2 separate regions of the Homo sapiens genome follow, and region 1 is linked to region 2. The links come from fine-mapping of genetic effects on gene expression. Tissue or cell type: pancreas. Region 2 holds a variant in brackets; the other region holds the start of a gene. All regions are shown on one strand. Distances are between the middles of the regions.

What was found. PIP is the estimated chance that this variant, and not a neighbour inherited with it, causes the effect.
Region 1: TMEM184A starts here. The variant in region 2 is fine-mapped to the expression of TMEM184A in pancreas (GTEx, PIP 0.99).

What each region holds. Positions count from the first base shown.
Region 1 is chr7:1,551,140-1,559,236 of GRCh38, reverse strand. It overlaps TMEM184A (transmembrane protein 184A), which reads left to right and starts at 3,032. Exons shown (of 9, transcript NM_001097620.2): 1 at 3,032-3,123; 2 at 3,753-3,971. The coding sequence starts at 3,753. RefSeq lists silencers at 2,757-2,846, 2,887-2,956, 4,324-4,506 and enhancers at 2,614-3,413, 3,550-3,844, 3,414-4,214.
Region 2 is chr7:1,747,464-1,755,560 of GRCh38, reverse strand. It overlaps ELFN1 (extracellular leucine rich repeat and fibronectin type III domain containing 1), which reads right to left. Exons shown (of 4, transcript NM_001128636.4): 4 at 7,615-8,097. Among named protein-coding and RNA genes, the nearest start is that of ELFN1-AS1, 9.2 kb to the right of the region's middle. The variant C/T (reference allele first, on the strand shown) is at 3,704.

The sequences.
Region 1 (8,097 bases), 200 kb after region 2:
GGCACCTGGACGCAGTGAACAATGGTCAGAGGGCCCCGTCGCCTGGATCTGGGCAGACAGGTCTGTCCTGCAATGGGCTTGGTCAGTGTCCCGCCCCCGCCAGAAAAATCAGGCCCAGCCGGCCCTGCCGCCTCCTGTGACCGGGCGCAGAGGCTGTGACACCAGCACCGGGTGAGGCCTCGATCAGCCGGCGAGCCCTGTGAGCAGGTGGCAGAGCGGTCAACCTCCCGACTGCCCCTCCCTGGGGACCAGGCCCTGCTCCTGACATCCCCAGACCAGTACACTTGGTCCACGGTTCCCGAGCTGGCGCATCTGGCTCAGCCGGGACAGCTGTGGGCTGAGGAGATCAGCAGGCCTCCCTGTCCAGTGCCCAGCTGGCCCTGTGAGAAAACCCCACCTTTTTCCACAGAGGATCTGCCTCTGGCGGAAGACAGAGCTTTGGAGGTCCCTCAGTCTGTGTCCGGGGCCCAAGCCCTGAGCCTGCCCGAAGCCAGAGCCCTCCCAGAAGCCTGGCTCTGCTGGCTCCAGCCAAAACGGTCCTGCTGACATCTAGCCACAGTGCCTCCTGCTGTCTGCACAGCCATTCCCACCGTCAGCCCAGGGAGGGGCCCGAGGCTTCATCCTGTGCTGGGGGCTGGACGCAAATCAAGCAGGGGCTGGGGCCTCAGTTTCCCTGCCTGTAGCATGAGCGAGTTGGATGAGGGGATTCCCGGTCCCTTCCAGCTCTGCGCATGCCCAGGCACCAAAGTCTTCACCCTTCAAACGGGCCCCCAGCCATCGTCACTTCATAGTTGTCCGTGACGGTGATCCCGACACAGCCAGAGGGCGACATCCACACGCGCTGAGCCGACTGCCTGGGGCTCTGCAGGCCGGGTGGGAGGCCGGCAGGAGTACCTGTGGCTGCAGTGGGAATGCAGCTGGATGGAAGTTGGGGACCGCCTTCCAGCACCCCTGCCTGGCCAAAGGGAGACCTTAGCCCACAGGGTCACCGCCTCAGCAGGACAGCCCCCACCCCGCAAGCCCTGTGCCCCGAGCATGGACAGGGCACAGCTCTAGGCTCTGGCAGCTCCTGCAGAGGGAGGACCAGCAGCAAACACAGACAGGTGGACAGGGAGTCACACACACAGTGAGGAGGGTGATGGGACAGCGGGGATGGTCTCTCCAGAGGTGACGCCTGAGGCTGCAGGACAGAGTCACCCGGGAGCAGGGTCGGTTGGTCCAGAAGGTCCCTGCCTGGGGAGCAGGCAGGCTCCAGGAGGGCCCAGCCAGGGTGTGCATGCTGTGGCTCTGGGCCCGGGCCCGGGTGGGCGCTGATGGGGAGGTTAGGCAAGGCGGGCCTGAGAGCTGGGCACGACTTCCTGAGCTTGTTCCCCACCTGGGAGCCTCCCTGGAGGGACAGTGTCAGTGGAGGAGTTGGGAAAAGCAGGCAGGGTGTCCCAGGGAAGGATGGGCCTCAGCCCGGGCCCCTCACGGACCCCTCAAGGATGCTGGACGCGTTGATGCGCCTCTCGTTCCCATCTCTAAAAGGGGAACAGGCCGGACGTGGTGGCTCAAACCTGTAATCCCAGCACTTTGGGAGGCTGAGGCGGGCAGATCACCTGAGGTCAGGAGTTCAAGCCCAGCCTGGCCAACGTGGTGAAACCCCGTCTTTACTAAAAATACAAAAATTAGCTAGGTGTGGTGGTGGGCGCCTGTAATCCCAGCTACTCGGGAGGCTGAGGCAGGAGAATCACTTGAACCCAGGAGGCGGAGGTTGCAGTGAGCCGAGATCGCGCCATTGTACTCCAGCCTGGCGACAGAGCGAGGCTCCGTCTCAAAAAATAAATTAATTAAAAATAAAAGGGGAACAGTGGCTCCAGTCATTCCAGCCTCAACCCCTTGAGCCCTGTTGCTCAGGGCTGTGGGAGGGTAGGAGATATGAAGGACAAGGAGTGTGTGGATCCGTTGCGGGCATGGAGCGGGACTTGGTAATGGTGGCCCCAGCGGCATGAGCCCAAGCGTAACCAGAACAGGACAAGAGGTGGGCTGAGGGCCCACATCCCTCTCCCAGGAGCCGGGGTGAGTGAGTTTTTTCTCCACAGGGGCCTCTGCATGGGGGTGACAGGGACCCTCAGGGCCCCGCAACCCCTTGCCAGACCCCAAAGGGTCCAGGGACTGGGCTGTCACTCCCCCTCTCCTGCCTTGATCCACAAAAACCAGAAATATTTCCTTTTTTTTTTTTTTTTTTTTTTGGACACAGAGTCTCCCTCTGTCCCCAGGCTGGAGTGCAGTGGTGTGATCTCAGCTTACTGCAACCTCCGCCTTCTGAGTTCAAGCGATTCTCCTGTCTCAGCCTCTTGAGTATCTGGAATTACAGGTGCACGCTGCCACACCTAGCTAATTTTTGCGTATTTCGTAGAGACGGCGTTTCACCATGTTGGCCAGGCTGGTCTCGAACTCCTGACCTCAAGTGATCCACCCACCTTGGCCTCCCAAAGTGTGGGGATGACAGGCGTGAGCCACCACGCCCGGCCCAGAAAACAAATGTTTTCAACTCATCTCTTGGGGCGTGGATTTTTTTTTTAATTCAGATGAAATTCACATAACATCAATTTACCCAGGTTTAAGTGAACGATTCGGTGGCGGTAAGTATATCCACAGTGCTGTGTGCCTGCCGCCTCTACCTCATTTCAGGACTCCTGTCACCCCCCAGAGAAACCCTGTACCATTAGCTCTCCACCCCTCCTCCTGCAGCCCGGCCCTCCTTGGCCTGCCGCAGACCTCTCCCACGTGTCCCCACCAGGTGGCAGCTGCCTGGCCGTCTGGCATAGGCAGGTGAGGGCGCCAGGCGGCCAGCAGGTTCCTGGGAGCCAGCTGCCACCCAGCAAACAACCGGGAGGATAGGGTGTCAGCCGTGGGAGGGGACAGGAGGGGACGGGCCTGCAGCCTGGGGCCCAGGTGGGCCACTGGGGACGTGAGGCACTGGCCGCCCCGCCCCAGCCTGGCACAGCCCTTCAGATCCTGGCCTTGCCGCACCCACAGTGGGGCCTCCAGTTGGGGCCACGTGGCCATGAGAATGACCAGCTAGGCTTCCCTGGAGGCCAGGCCTCCCTGGACTGGGCCAGGTGCTTCCTGCCAGCAAAGGTAGAGCTGGGCCCTGTGACCGCAGACCAGAGGGAGAGGAGGAGGCTGGACTGGGCTGCGAGTGTGGGAGAGGGTGGACTCAGGGCCCCAGCAGGTTAGTGGGAGATGGAACAGGCACCCAGGGCTGCCAAGAACCCCAGCAAAGCCGGGCTCCCAGGTGGGTGGACAGGTCCCAGAGCCAGTGAGGGCCGGCTCCTCCCATGAGGGTGGCTGCACACCCCCTCCTGCCGGGGCAGGCAGTGCTGGTCTGCGCCCGCTCCCCAGCCCTCCCGGGCAGGCAGGGCGGCAGGGGTTCCCCCTCTTCTGCCCCACTGGAAGACGGTCTTTGTCCCCTAAGAAGCAGGCTCCCTGCAAGCCTGAGACTCGGAGTTGGAAGCTGGTTTTACAAGGGGGAATTGAGGTGGGACCCTCAGGTCGCAGGTGGTTGATGGGTGAGCTTCGATGGCTGAGCTCGGAGCAGGGAGGGAGCCGGGCCTGGCGCTGGTGTCCGTGTGGGGGGTGCGGCCTGGTGGGTGGCTCAGCCTCAGCTCCCGTCTCACTGTCTCCTCCCTCCCCCGCTGCTTCCTGCTGCCGGGAGCCAGTACCTTTGCCCTCACTCCTCCCGGTGTGTGTCCTCCCTCCCTCTGCAGATGAGTAATGTCTCAGGGATCCTGGAGACAGCCGGCGTCCCCCTGGTGTCAGCGAACTGGCCGCAGCCCAGCCCCCCACCGGCTGTGCCAGCTGGGCCGCAGATGGACCACATGGGGAACAGCTCCCAGGGGGCCCCCTGGCTCTTCCTCACCTCCGCACTGGCCCGAGGCGTCTCGGGGATCTTCGTGTGGACTGCCCTGGTGCTCACCTGCCACCAGGTAAGCCCTTCCGCCCCCGAGCCTCCTTCAGGACCTTGGTCTCCACAGGACGTGGCCGTGGCTCAGCCCGGTCCCCCTGGGTGCCGCTGCTATAGACGCTGTCAGAAGTGGGATCGGCCAGGGCACGGGGGAGGGGATGAGCTTCCCCAGGATGTGGCATGTGGGAGCTGGGCCTGAAAATGGGGAGATCTCTGCCAGGCTGAGGGCAGAGCGCCCACCGGGCACCCCTGGCTATTTCACAGGCTCGTCACTCGGCTCACTGAGGTCTGCAGTGTGGTCCCATTTCACAGACAAGAAGACTGAGTCTCAGAGAGACCAGAGGTCTTTCCCAGGCTCACATAGCTGGAAAGGGGAAGGGGCCTTCTCCTTCCAGAGGCGTGACACCCTGGAGAAGGCTGGTGGGAGGTTGGCAGGGGGTTGGACTTTGCTCTGTAGGGAGCTGGGGAGCAAAGGTCACAGCTTGTTAGAGGGACCGGGACTCCTGTGCAGGAGATGGGCGAGAAGCAACTTCCCCAAGCCCGAAGCCACACACAGCCCCCGACCCGGAGCAGTCCCCAGGTGGGAACAGAACAGCCCCCAGGTAGAGAAGCGGCCAGGCGCTGTGGCAAGGAAGGGCCAGGCAGGGGCAAGGAGGAAGTGGTGCCCGAGGGCAGGGGCTGGGCAGAGAGGGCAGGGAGTCAGGGACAGGACCCTCCTGAGAGACTCAGATACACAGAGAGGCCAGGGCGGTGTGCGCAGGGGTGGGGTGGGAGTGCGTGTGTAGGCCCGCGAGGGCCACACGGCTGCAGGGATTTGTCCAGAGCCCTTGACCCCAGTGCGGTGAGGTGGCTTTCAGGGGGTGCTGGGAGCCCAGGAAGGCTGTGGAGGGCTGGGCTGAGGGCAGAGCTGCTTCCCGGGTGCACGGGGCACTGGTGTAGGGAATGGATCTGTAGGTGAGCTGGGGCAGGGGGCCATCAGGAGACTGGCAGGCAGGGACACCGGTGGCCACAAGTCTCCGAGGGAGCATCTCAGTGACAGTTTATTAACTGCTTATTAGCCGGGCATGGGGGCCTGCACTGTTAGTCCCAGCTACTTGGGAGGCTGAGATGGGAGGATCGCTTGAGCCCAGTTCAAGGTTGCAGTGAGCTGTGAACAGATAACCAGAACCCACGGTAGACGTGTATGAGTGTGGCCTGGAGTGTGCAGAGCCGCGGAGGCAGTGCCGAGGCAGGCCCTTCCTGTAAGGCCATCAGAGAGGGCTTCCCGGAGGAGGCCGTCTTTCCGCTGTAATCCTGGGAACCGGCTGTGTGTGCGCGGCTGTAGTGTGGCTTTAGCTTCATGGGGCCTCGCAGTCAAGACAGGGCTCATGGAGACCCCTTGGGCTGGAGTTCAGGCCCTGTCCCACCCCTGAGCCCACCGCCAGAGTCACCCTTGAGTGAGGAGTCCCAGGCAGGACACAGAGTGGCTGGATCCCCCTCACTTTATACATGGGAGGACCGAGGCCGGAGAGGACAGTGGCTTGTCAAGGTCACCCAGCCAGGCAGCGCCAGCCCCGGGAGAGGTCTCCTGATGGCTGGTCATGCCGTCCCTCCCAGGGACCATCGGGGAGCGTGTGACTGATAAGAGTCTGTTCCTGCCTCCAACCTCCCCCAACTCCCTGAGCTGCACCCCAAGCGGCCAGGTGCACGTAGCCTCTGCTCGCCCACCGCCACGCATGCACCTCCTCCAGAAGGCCTTCCCCAGGAGCCCCTGTGCGCCCAGCTCCCAGGCTCGGCTGACCCTGTCTCAAAGACCCTGTAGTTGAGTTGTATCCTCACAGAAAACATGGAAAATCGGTCAGGCGTGGTGTCTCACACCTGTAATCCCAGCATTGTGGGAGGCCAAGGCGGGTGGATCACCCGAGGTCAAGAGTTTGAGACCAGCCTGGCCAACATGGGGAAACTCTGTCTCTACTAAAAATACAAAAATTAGCCGGGCATGGTGGTGCGCGCCTATAATCCCAGCTACTCAGGAGGCTGAGGCAGGAGAATCACTTGAACCCGGGAGGCGGAGGTTGCAGTGAGTTGAGATTGCGCCACTGCACCCCAGCCTGGGCAACAGAGCAAGACTCCGTCTCAATAAAAAAAATAATAATTAAAAATTAAAAAAAATAAAAACGTGGAAAATCTAGAAAGGTTTAAAGGCAAACACTACTATAATCACCCATACTTTTTCCCAGGCTTTCTTTTTTTTTAGGCAGGATCTCACTCTGTGACCCAGGCTGCAGTCCGGTGGCACAATCAGTGCTCACTGCAGCCTCCGCTTCCCGGATTTAAGCCATCCTCCCACCTCAGCCTCCCGAGTAGCTGGGACTGCAGGCGCCCGCCACCACGCCTGGCTAATTTTTGTATTTTTTAGTAGAGATGGAGTTCGCCCTGTTGACCAGGCCGGTCTCGAACTCCTGAGCTCAGGTAATCCGCCCACCTTGGCCTCCCAAAGTGCTAAGATTACAGGCGTGGGCCACCGTGCCTGGCCCCTAGGGAGGGACAAATTCTTAGGAATCAAAGGGTGCACATCCTTTGGATGCCCCCACAGCAAAAGCCAATGTGCCTTCTGAGAGTCTGCCCAGCCCAGGACCGGGACGTGTCCCCTCTCCGTCCCCCGGGTTGGACACTTAGCTGGGCTCTAGAAACGCCTGCTGAATGAAGGAATGAGTGAGCGTTCCCATTCCCAGGCTAAGAACAAACAGGACCCTCACTCATGCCCAAGGAACTTATTCAGAAAAAAAAAAAAAAAAAACCTATTGTACAACATGGTGACTGTTATAAATAACAATGTATTCTATGCTTGAAAATTGCCAAGAGAGTACATTTTACATGTCCTCCCCGCAAAGAAATGCTAAGTATGGGAGATAATGGAGACGTTAATGGGTTTGACTCAGCCATTCCCCACGAACACACATATCAGACATCGCGCTGCACACTGTAAATGCATACAATTTTGATTTGCCAATTTAAAAAATAAATTTTAGGCCAGGTGCAGTGGCTCATGACTATAGTCCCAGCACTTTGGGAGACGGAGGCAGGAGGATCCCTTGAGCCTAGGACTTTGAGACCAGCCTGGGCAACACAGTGAGACCCTGTCTGTACAAAAAATACAAAAATTAGCCAGGCAAGGTGGTGCACACCTGTAGTCCCAATACTCAGCAGGCTGAGGTAGGCAGATCACTCGAGCCCGGGAGTTCAAGGCTGCAGTGAGCCATGATTGTACCACTGCACTCCAGTCTGGGCGACAGAGCGAGACCCTGTCTCAAAAAAAACCTGGGCAAGAGAGCGAGACCATGTTTCTCAAAAAAATATTTTTTTTTTTTTGAGAAAGGGTCTCGCTCTGTCGCCCAGGCTGGAGTGCAGTGGCGCAATCTTGGTTCACCGCAACCTCCACCTCCCAGGCTCAAGCGATTCTCCTGCCTCAGCCTCTCTAGTAGCTGGGATTACAGGCGCGCGCCACCATGCCTGGCTAATTTTTGTGTATTTAGTAGAGACTGTGTTTCACCATGTTGGCCAGGCTGGTCTTGAACTCCTGACCTCAAATGATCCACCCACCTCGGCCTCCCAAAGTGCTGGGATTATAGGTGTGAGCCACTGCACCCGGCCATAAAAAGTCAATTATTCAAATGTGTATTATTTTTAGTTGTAACCAGAAATATGTATTTAACATATACATTCATACTTATATGTACTTCTATAGTAAATACGTATAAAAGTATGTATCTAATTACAATAGGCAAACAATTTATTTTCTCTAATTGTAATAAGGATGCCCATTGTAGAAAACTAGAAAATGCAAACATAGAAGGTGCCTGGTGGCCTGCACCCACCCCCACCTCCTTCCCGGCTCACCTGGGCTTGTGCAGGGGTACCAGGCGGACCCGGCTCTCACCCGAACCCTCCTGCGCCCACCCCCACCTCCTTCCCGGCTCACCTGGGCTTGTGCAGGGGTACCAGGCGGACCTGGCTCTCACCCGAACCCTCCTGCGCCCACCCCCACCTCCTTCCCGGCTCACCTGGGCTGGTGCAGGGGTACCGGGTGGACCCGGCTCTCACGCGAACCCTCCTGCGCCCAGGGCGGGCCCGGCTCTCACGCGAACCCTCCTGCGCCCACCCCCACC
Region 2 (8,097 bases):
GAACACTTTGGACTTAAGGACACTGGGCACAGCTGAAGGTGACGGCACTTATTAAAAGCAGAGGGATTGGCTGGGCGTATTGGCTCACGCCCACCATCCCGGCGCTTTCGAACATTAATCCGAAATAGGCCACGAATTTAAATGCAAAAAGTAAACTGTAATCTTCTAAAATAAAATATAGCAGAAATACTAGAACATCTTCAGGACCACTGGCTCGGCAATGTGGTACCAAAAGCATGATCTACGAAAGTGAAAAATGGATCAACTAGACCTCAAAACGTTAAAAAAAAATGCTTGCATTCAAAGGATGAAAAGACAAGCCACAGGCAGGGAGAAAATGTTTGCAAAGCACACATCTGACAAAGGTGTCGTTTCTAGAAAAATGTAAAGAACACTTAAGACCCCACAGTAGAAACAAACGAAACATTTAGAAAATGGGAAAAAAGGCTGGGCACGGCAGCTCACGCCTGTAATCCCAGCACTTTGGGAGGTTGAGGTGGGTGGATCACCTGAAGTCAGGAGTTCGAGACCAGCCTGACCAATATGGTGAAACCCTGTCTCTACTAAAAATACAAAACTTAGCCGGTTGTGGTGGCGGGTGCCTATAATCCCATCTACTCGGGAGCCTGGGGCAGGAGACTTGCTTGAACCAGGAAGGCAGAGGTTGCAGTGAGCTGAGATCATGCCACAGCACTCCAGCCCGGGTGACAGAGTGAGATTCTGTCAAAAAAGAGAAAGAAGGAAAGGAAGGAAGGAAGGAAGGAAGGAAGGAAGGAAGGAAGGAAGGAAGAAAGGAAAGAGAAAGAAAGAGAAAGAAAGAAAGGAAAGAAAGAAAAAAAGAAAGAAGAAAGGAAGGAAAGAAGGAAGGAAGGAAGAGAAAGGGAAAAAAGATGTAAGGAGACATTTCATCAAAGAAGAGCTACAGAGGGCAAATAAGCACATGAATAGGTTTCACATGAATAGGTGTTCACCATCAGTAGATACCAGCAAATAGAAATTAAACCACAATGAGATCACTACACCCTATTAGAACGACTGAAACAGAAAATAGTGATACGACCCAATGCCAGTGAGGGTGTGGAGAAACTGCATCTCGCATACATTGGTGGTGGTGATAAAAAATGGCGCAGCCACCCTGAAAAACATTTGAGCAGCCAGCATGCACTTACTATGCACCCCAGCAACTGCATGTCTGTGCATTAACCCCAGAAAAATGAAAACTTAAGTTCACACCAAGGCCTGCACGTGAATGTTCATAGCAGTTTATTTGTAATGGCTCCAAAGTGCAAAACCACCCAAATGTTTTTCCACAGGTGAATATGGTTAAATAAACCTGGGTGTGTCATCTATACAAAGGAATACTACTCAGCGATGAAAAGGAACAAACTAAACTGTTGATCCCATAAAAGAACTTGGGTAGACGAGGTGCGGTGGTGGCTCACGCCTGTAATCCCAGCACTTTAAGAGACCAAGGCGGACAGATCACCTGAGGTCAGGAGTTCGAGACCAGCCTGACCAAAATGGTGAAACCCTGTCTCTGCTAAAAATACAAAACTTAGCCGGGCGTGGTGGCAGGTGCCTGTAATCCCAGCTACTTGGGAGGCTGAGGCAGGACAATCGCTTGAACCAGAAAGGCAGATGTTGCAGTGAGCCGAGATCGTGCCATTGCACTGCATCCTGGTCAACGAGCAAAACTCCATTTCAAAAAAAAAAAAAAAAAAAAAAAGAATTTGGGTGGATCTTAAGGGCCTTACGCTGAGTGGGCGAAAAACACCTCAAAGGTTACACAGGGCATGATCCCATTCATATAACCTTCTCAAAATGACAGAAACGGAGAAGAGATGTGTGGCTGCCAGGCAGGGGTAGCGTTGGGGTGGAGTGGGGGGGACAAGATCCCTGTGGTGACGGAAGAGTTCTGAATCTCGACTGGGGCGGTGGTTACTGAAATCTATATACGGGGGGTAAGTTTGCAAAGAACTACACACACGTCCACGCAGGTGAATGCGTGTACAGGCTGCTAGGAACTGAATCAGATCTTAGTCTAGTTAACAAAATTACACCCAGGTGCAAGCCGACTTCCTGGTTTTGATACTGTACGCCAGTTACGTAAGGTGTCACCGCTGGGGGAAGCTGGGTGACTCTATTTTTACAACTTCCTGTGACTCTATAATTACCTCAAATTTAAAGTAAAAATTTTAAAGACTCCTAGAAAGTAGAACAAAAGGGCAATGCAATGGGGTGAGAAGAGATGCTGAGAAAATCGCAGTCACCCAAAGAGACTGTCCCTACGCCCCGCGTGTGCCCCCAGCTCCCACGCCAGAGCCCACATCCCCACCTTCTCTCCCGCTAAGGAGGAGCAACGGCCAAGTCCAAGACCTGTCTGGCCAAGCCCGGCCCTTCCATGGAGCACAGTGTCTCGTCCCGTCTTACTCAAACATTGCTCCAGCAATTCTTTCCCTCTTCCGTTCGCCATCAACGTTTTCTTCTCCACTGGATCCTAAAACACACGTTATTTCCCCATCTTCATGCACCACGCCCTACACCCCATCTGGGGGAAACAGAGGCTACAAACACCTGTTGTTACAGAAAATAAAGAGATACCTCTTTGCATATCCACCTGCGGGGTAGAGATTTCAAGCCTGCTGCATTTCTAGAGAGAAAGGGCTAGAAAGGCAGATACCAATATATTCCCATGGTTAGCTCAGGGTGGGGAGAGTAAATGATTTCTGTTTCCTTCTTTAACTGTTTTCTGAAGTTTATGTAGCAAAAGGATTACTTTTGAGATAAAACAAAAATCAATAAAAGTTATTATTCTTTAACATACTGGCTGGGTGAGGCAGCTCACACCTGTAATCCCAATACTTTGGGAGGTCAAGGCAGGTGGATTACTTGAGTCTAGGAGTTCAAGACCAGCCTGGGCAGCATAGCAAAACACCGTCTCTATAAAACAAACAAACAAACAAAATAGCCAGGTGTGGTGGCGCGAACCTGTGGTCCCAGCTACTTGGGAGGCTGAAGCAGGAGGAACACCTGAACCCAGGAATTTGAGGCTGCAGTGAGCCATGATCGTGCCACTGCACTCCAGCCTGGGTGACAGAGCAAGACCTTGTCTCAATAAAATTAGGATAGAATAGAATAGAAGACTTCAATGGCTTCCTATGCACAGAGGCCGACTGTCATTTCTTCACACTTGCAAAGCAGGCCTCTGAGCCTGGCTCCGCCCCATCCCTGGTCTCAGCAGGCCGGGCCCCCTCACTGCCCCATGGTGGCCCCTCTGGGTGGGGTCGGGGTCTGTGCTCTCTGCACCTTGGCCCCCGCCATCCTTTCTGGGTGGAAGTCCGCTCCCCGTCCCTGCCGCCTTGTCTCTGCCAAGCCAGCTCCTGATTGTCCTTCAGGGTCTTTTTGTCTGATTTTTGTTGTTGCTGTAGTTGCTTTGTGTACTTTTTTTTTTCTGTGAGACGGAGTCTCGCTCTGTCGCCCAGGCTGGAGTGCGGCGGCGCCGTCTCGGCTCACTGCAACCTCCGCCTCCCGGGTTCAAGCGATTCTCCTGCCTCAGCCTCCCAAGTAACTAGAAATACAGGCGCCCGCCACCACACCAGGCTAATTTTTATATTTTTAGTAGAGATGGGGTTTCACCATGTTAGTCAGGCTGGTCTTGAACTCCTGACCCCAGGTGATCCACCCGCCTCGGCCTCCCAAAGTG[C/T]TGGGATTACAGGCGCGAGCCACCGCGCCCGGCCACCTTCAGTCTTGAGCGATCACCTCCTCTAAAAGCCTCCCTGTCCCCAGTGGAGATGACGGCCCCCTCCTCTGTGGCTGCCCCCAGGCCAGCCTCCCCCATCACCCAGTCCGGGTTGTCTCTGAACCTTCTCACCCCTGCTGTCTGTGGACTGAGCCCTGCGGGCCCCATCACGGGCTCCCTGATGTCCTGGCCATGCAGCCAGCAGGGAGCCCAGCAGGAGATGGGAGGGAGATCGGGGGACAAGCGGGGGTGGGCATGTGTCCCCAGTCCTCCTGCGAGGCTGCTGAGGCCCACTGGGAACTTCCCCTGAGGTCCCTCTCCAGGGCCCCGTGGGCCTCTCTGCACCTCTCTCTCTCCCTCCGGGTTCGGGGGCTCTCCTCCTCCCCCTCTCCCAGGGGGCCAAGGTGTGCCGTCAGCTTGGTGTCTCTGGAAATGGCCCCTTTGTAGGTAACCCCTTGAAGGATTCTACTTTGGGGTGTCTGCTCTTTCCTGTCGGGACCGTGGCTGACACATTCTTGGTGGGGAGCGTGTCTGGTACAGGGTAGGCCACCGCAGCTGAGGTGTTCTCGGTGGGGAGTGGCAGGCAGCGTGTCTGGTACACAGTAGGCTCTTTGCGTTTGGGTGCTGAGTGAATGCGTGGGTGGCAGAGACCTGGGGCCTTGGATTTCCTGCTCTTCTTGCTCTGCCCTCTGCCCCGGGAGGGGACACCTGGACTCAGCCATGCCTTAGGCCTCGGTGCACAGAGGCCCCCCCTGTCTTTGCCCTCTGTGTCTGCAGCCTTGGCCACAGGCCCCTGGGCTGGGGCGCCCTGTCCACCCTTTTCCTCTGAGCTCGGCCCCGCGGCTCACCCTGGCCTGTGGGATGCCAGCAGATGTGACCCTGGGGTTTGCTCCCTCGGCTGTCGCCGCAAGAACCAGCCCGTGCTGGCTCGATGGAGGATGGGAGACTGTGGGGAAGAACCCGGTCCTCCCTGTGCCCCGTGACATGAGAGTGTGCCCTCTTGCCAGCCGCCCCCCGAGGGGCCATACCGCACTGTGGTTGTGGGTTAGGCAGCATGATCACGGCAATGGATAACCAGTGCACTGCAGGAGGGACAGGCATCGGCATCCCCCCCACTGGACAAACGAGGAGACTGAGGCAGAGAGGGCCAGTGGCTTGCTATGGTCACACGGTCGTAGGGGTACGGCCTGGGCCTGAGGCCTCGCTGTGGCTTAGCCCTGGTCTCACAAACGAGCAAGACCTGCCCTCCAGGGCTGCCCCTCGGAAGCTGGGCACCCATCCCAGCTGCAGGGCAAGGCTGGGTCTGGCAGGTTTTTCTCCTGCTCCTGAGCCCAGCTCTGAGCCCACAGGGCACCAACCCCTCTCACCTTGGCAACCTCCACCTCCTTCCTCGCCCAAACCAAATACCACCCCTTCCAGGAAGCCTTCCCGGCTCTTCCCAGTCAGGAGTTCCCATCCTTCCCAGACCTCCAGCGCCTCCCCTGCTGCCCTGAGCCGGGTCACCCACCTCTGCACTGAGTTCTCTGCCAGCCTGTGAGCTCCCCGGGGGGCCGGGGCCGGGCTGGGCTCCTCCCTGCGCCCACACAGAGCTTGGCACAGAGCCCTGCACACAGTAGCCGCTTCCTAAGTGTGTGTCTCCTCCTGCTTATGTCCTGTCACCCCCACCATGACACCTTCAAGCAAGGGCACGGGAACTCGGGCCTCTTTTTCCCAGGACTGGCTGGGCGTTTGCAGACACTCGGGGCCAAGCCCCGCGGCTTCCAGGAGGGCTGAGCTCCCGGGCGGGGTGTCCTGGCTGTTGAGGACCCCGCACCTCGCTGCCTGCCATTTTCCCTTGTTCCTCTGTGGGCCGTTGACTCCTGGCCAGCTGCCCGGTGTTCCCAAGGCAGGCGCCTCTCTTCTGTGTCTGCCCTTCTCCCGCATTTCCTATAAATAGCCCATCTTCGCTCCTCAGTGAAAGGGAGCAGCGGGCTGAGAAGGCCTGGCCACCTCTCTGTCCCATGACCAGACTGTCATCGAGTTGCTATGTGACCTTGGGCAGGTTGGGGCCCTCTCTGGGCCTCCACCCGTCAGCCCTGGAACCCGCTCCTGGTCCCCGCTCCTCTCCCCTGGGCCTGGCGTTGTGGTCTCCAGCGGTCTCTCATGCCCTCCCGGGACCCCTCATGGAGGACAGGGAGCTGCCCAGGGCTGAGAGTCCCGGGCTGGCCAGAAACCTTGGGTCAAACGGCGAAGAGCTGGTGATGCAGCGTCCTCAGAAATGGCCCCCTTTGGAGGGCTGAGTCACAGGGTGCCCGTGGAGCCCACCCGGGCGTGCACCCCCGGAGCAGGCCTCACACTCTCAGGTCCCTGGTGGGGTGACCGGGGTGCAGGTGGCAGGATCGGGCTGGCTAACCTGGAGGGGACAGATGGGCCCTCAGTTCTGTGGCCCCTGGGGGACAGCCCCCTGGGCTTCTGCTGTAAGGGAGGTCCCGAAAGCTGGAGACAGCTACAGAAGAGAGGGGTGAGCTTCCCGTCACCCAGGGCGTGCAAGCAGAGGCTGCCCCTGCTCCTACCTGCACTGGCCCTTCCTCCCTCCCTCCTTGTCCCCCACTGGGTCAGACTGAGACTGGGTCCTTTCTTGGGGGACCCGTCAGAGCCTGAAAACCGGCTTCATCCCTCCGGTTCCTGCCCTGGAGTCTCCCGGGTTCCTGTTGCCTCTGGGACCCGGCTCCAGCCGCAGCCTCCTCCCTCCCTGGGTCTGTGCCAGAGTTCAGAGTGGGGGTGGGTCTGCCATCAATGGAGGGGTGGGGTGGGGGCTCAGCAGCCGGGACTTTAGGAAGGACAGGGGAGGGGCCATCCAGACAGGAAGAGAGGGGTGACAGGGAGCTTTGACTCAGCAGTCCCGGCATCAGGCAGGTGTCCGGGCCCAGGGTGAGGTGTTCCCCTTCCTCACAGGGCCCTCCCCCTGAGCAGAAAGGCAGCTCTGCGTGGGATGCAGGGCTGGGGGCTGTTTCCCTGGGGTGGGTACAAAACCCCCACTCAGCTGGCAGGTGGATTCGAGGGCCTGGGAGTCCAGTCTCGTCCTCAGCGTCTCCCTCTGGCTCCTGTAGGTGGGATGAGGGGCACCCTGTGCTCTGGGCAGCAGGAAGCCAGGGACTCTCTCCATCCTCCCCTGGGGATGCTAAACAACCTGGTGCTCGTCCCACATGGACTCCAGCCTCTTATTCACTCAGAACGGGGGCCCACACCAGGGCGTGCTGCCTGGAGGGGTGGTGGGTGAGATGCATATGGAGGGGGCTGCAGTGCAGGGTCTGGCTCCGGGCTCAGCGTCCTGAGAGACCCCCGAAGAATTAGGGGTCTCTGGGCACTTCCTGTAGGTGGGGCTCTGGCGACAGCAGGGGAACCCGCCCTCACACAGACACACCCTCCAACCACCTCACGCTCACGCTCAATCACATGCAAACCCACACCATCGGCTCACCCGGAACCTCACTCAAGAGCCTCTGGGCGTCCCAGGCCCACTCACACCCCCTCGGCTGCTGGGTTCTGCACACACCCCGCTGGCACGCACAGCCAGACACACACAGAAGCAGCCCCGCACCGTGGATCCACCACACCAAGACCCTGCTCCCGCCCGTCCTCCCGCCGCCACCTGAGCTTGGCTCCCGCCTACCCTGTCCACACCGGCTCTCAGACACGCTCCAGCCCAGTGCGGGCCGCCCACCTCCCAAGGGTTCCCACGTGCACCCCCCTGGTCACACCACGCTCTAGCCAAGAGAGCACAGCGTGTCCCCACCCCAAGGCCAAAATCAGTAAAACCACCCCCTAAACGGGACATAAAAGAAACCTCAACTCTTTCCCTGAAACCCACAGTAAAAACCCAGGACAAACAAGCATTTGATTTGTTTTCCTTTGCAGATTTTTTTTTAAGTAGACATAGTCTTTTTTTTTTTTTTTTTAGTAGACATAGTCTTTTTTTCTTTCTCATTTTACAGCAAACATTGCAAATATAGAAATATTTTTTTCTGTACAATAGAACGACTACAGTGTACATGGGGGCTGGGCTGGGGGACGTGCCTCCCAGCCCTTGGCCGTCCTGGCCACCCCGGCCGTCCACAGGCACAGCCTCCACCCACCCTGAGTCCAGCAGGGCTCCAGGACCTGTCCCGGAGGCCACTTGGCCGCCGGCATTCACTCTGCCCCTCTGCAGTGGACTCCGGAGGCGGCAATGAAGAGACGGACTGGACAGAGAATCCACAGAAAACCACGGACCGAGGAGATCACGTGAGGGGCCCCGAGGTGGCCACGCCGGCCACACCCCCCACGGATGGCATTTTATGTCTTTTTAAAATAACTTGTCTTTTATTATATTTTTTTAA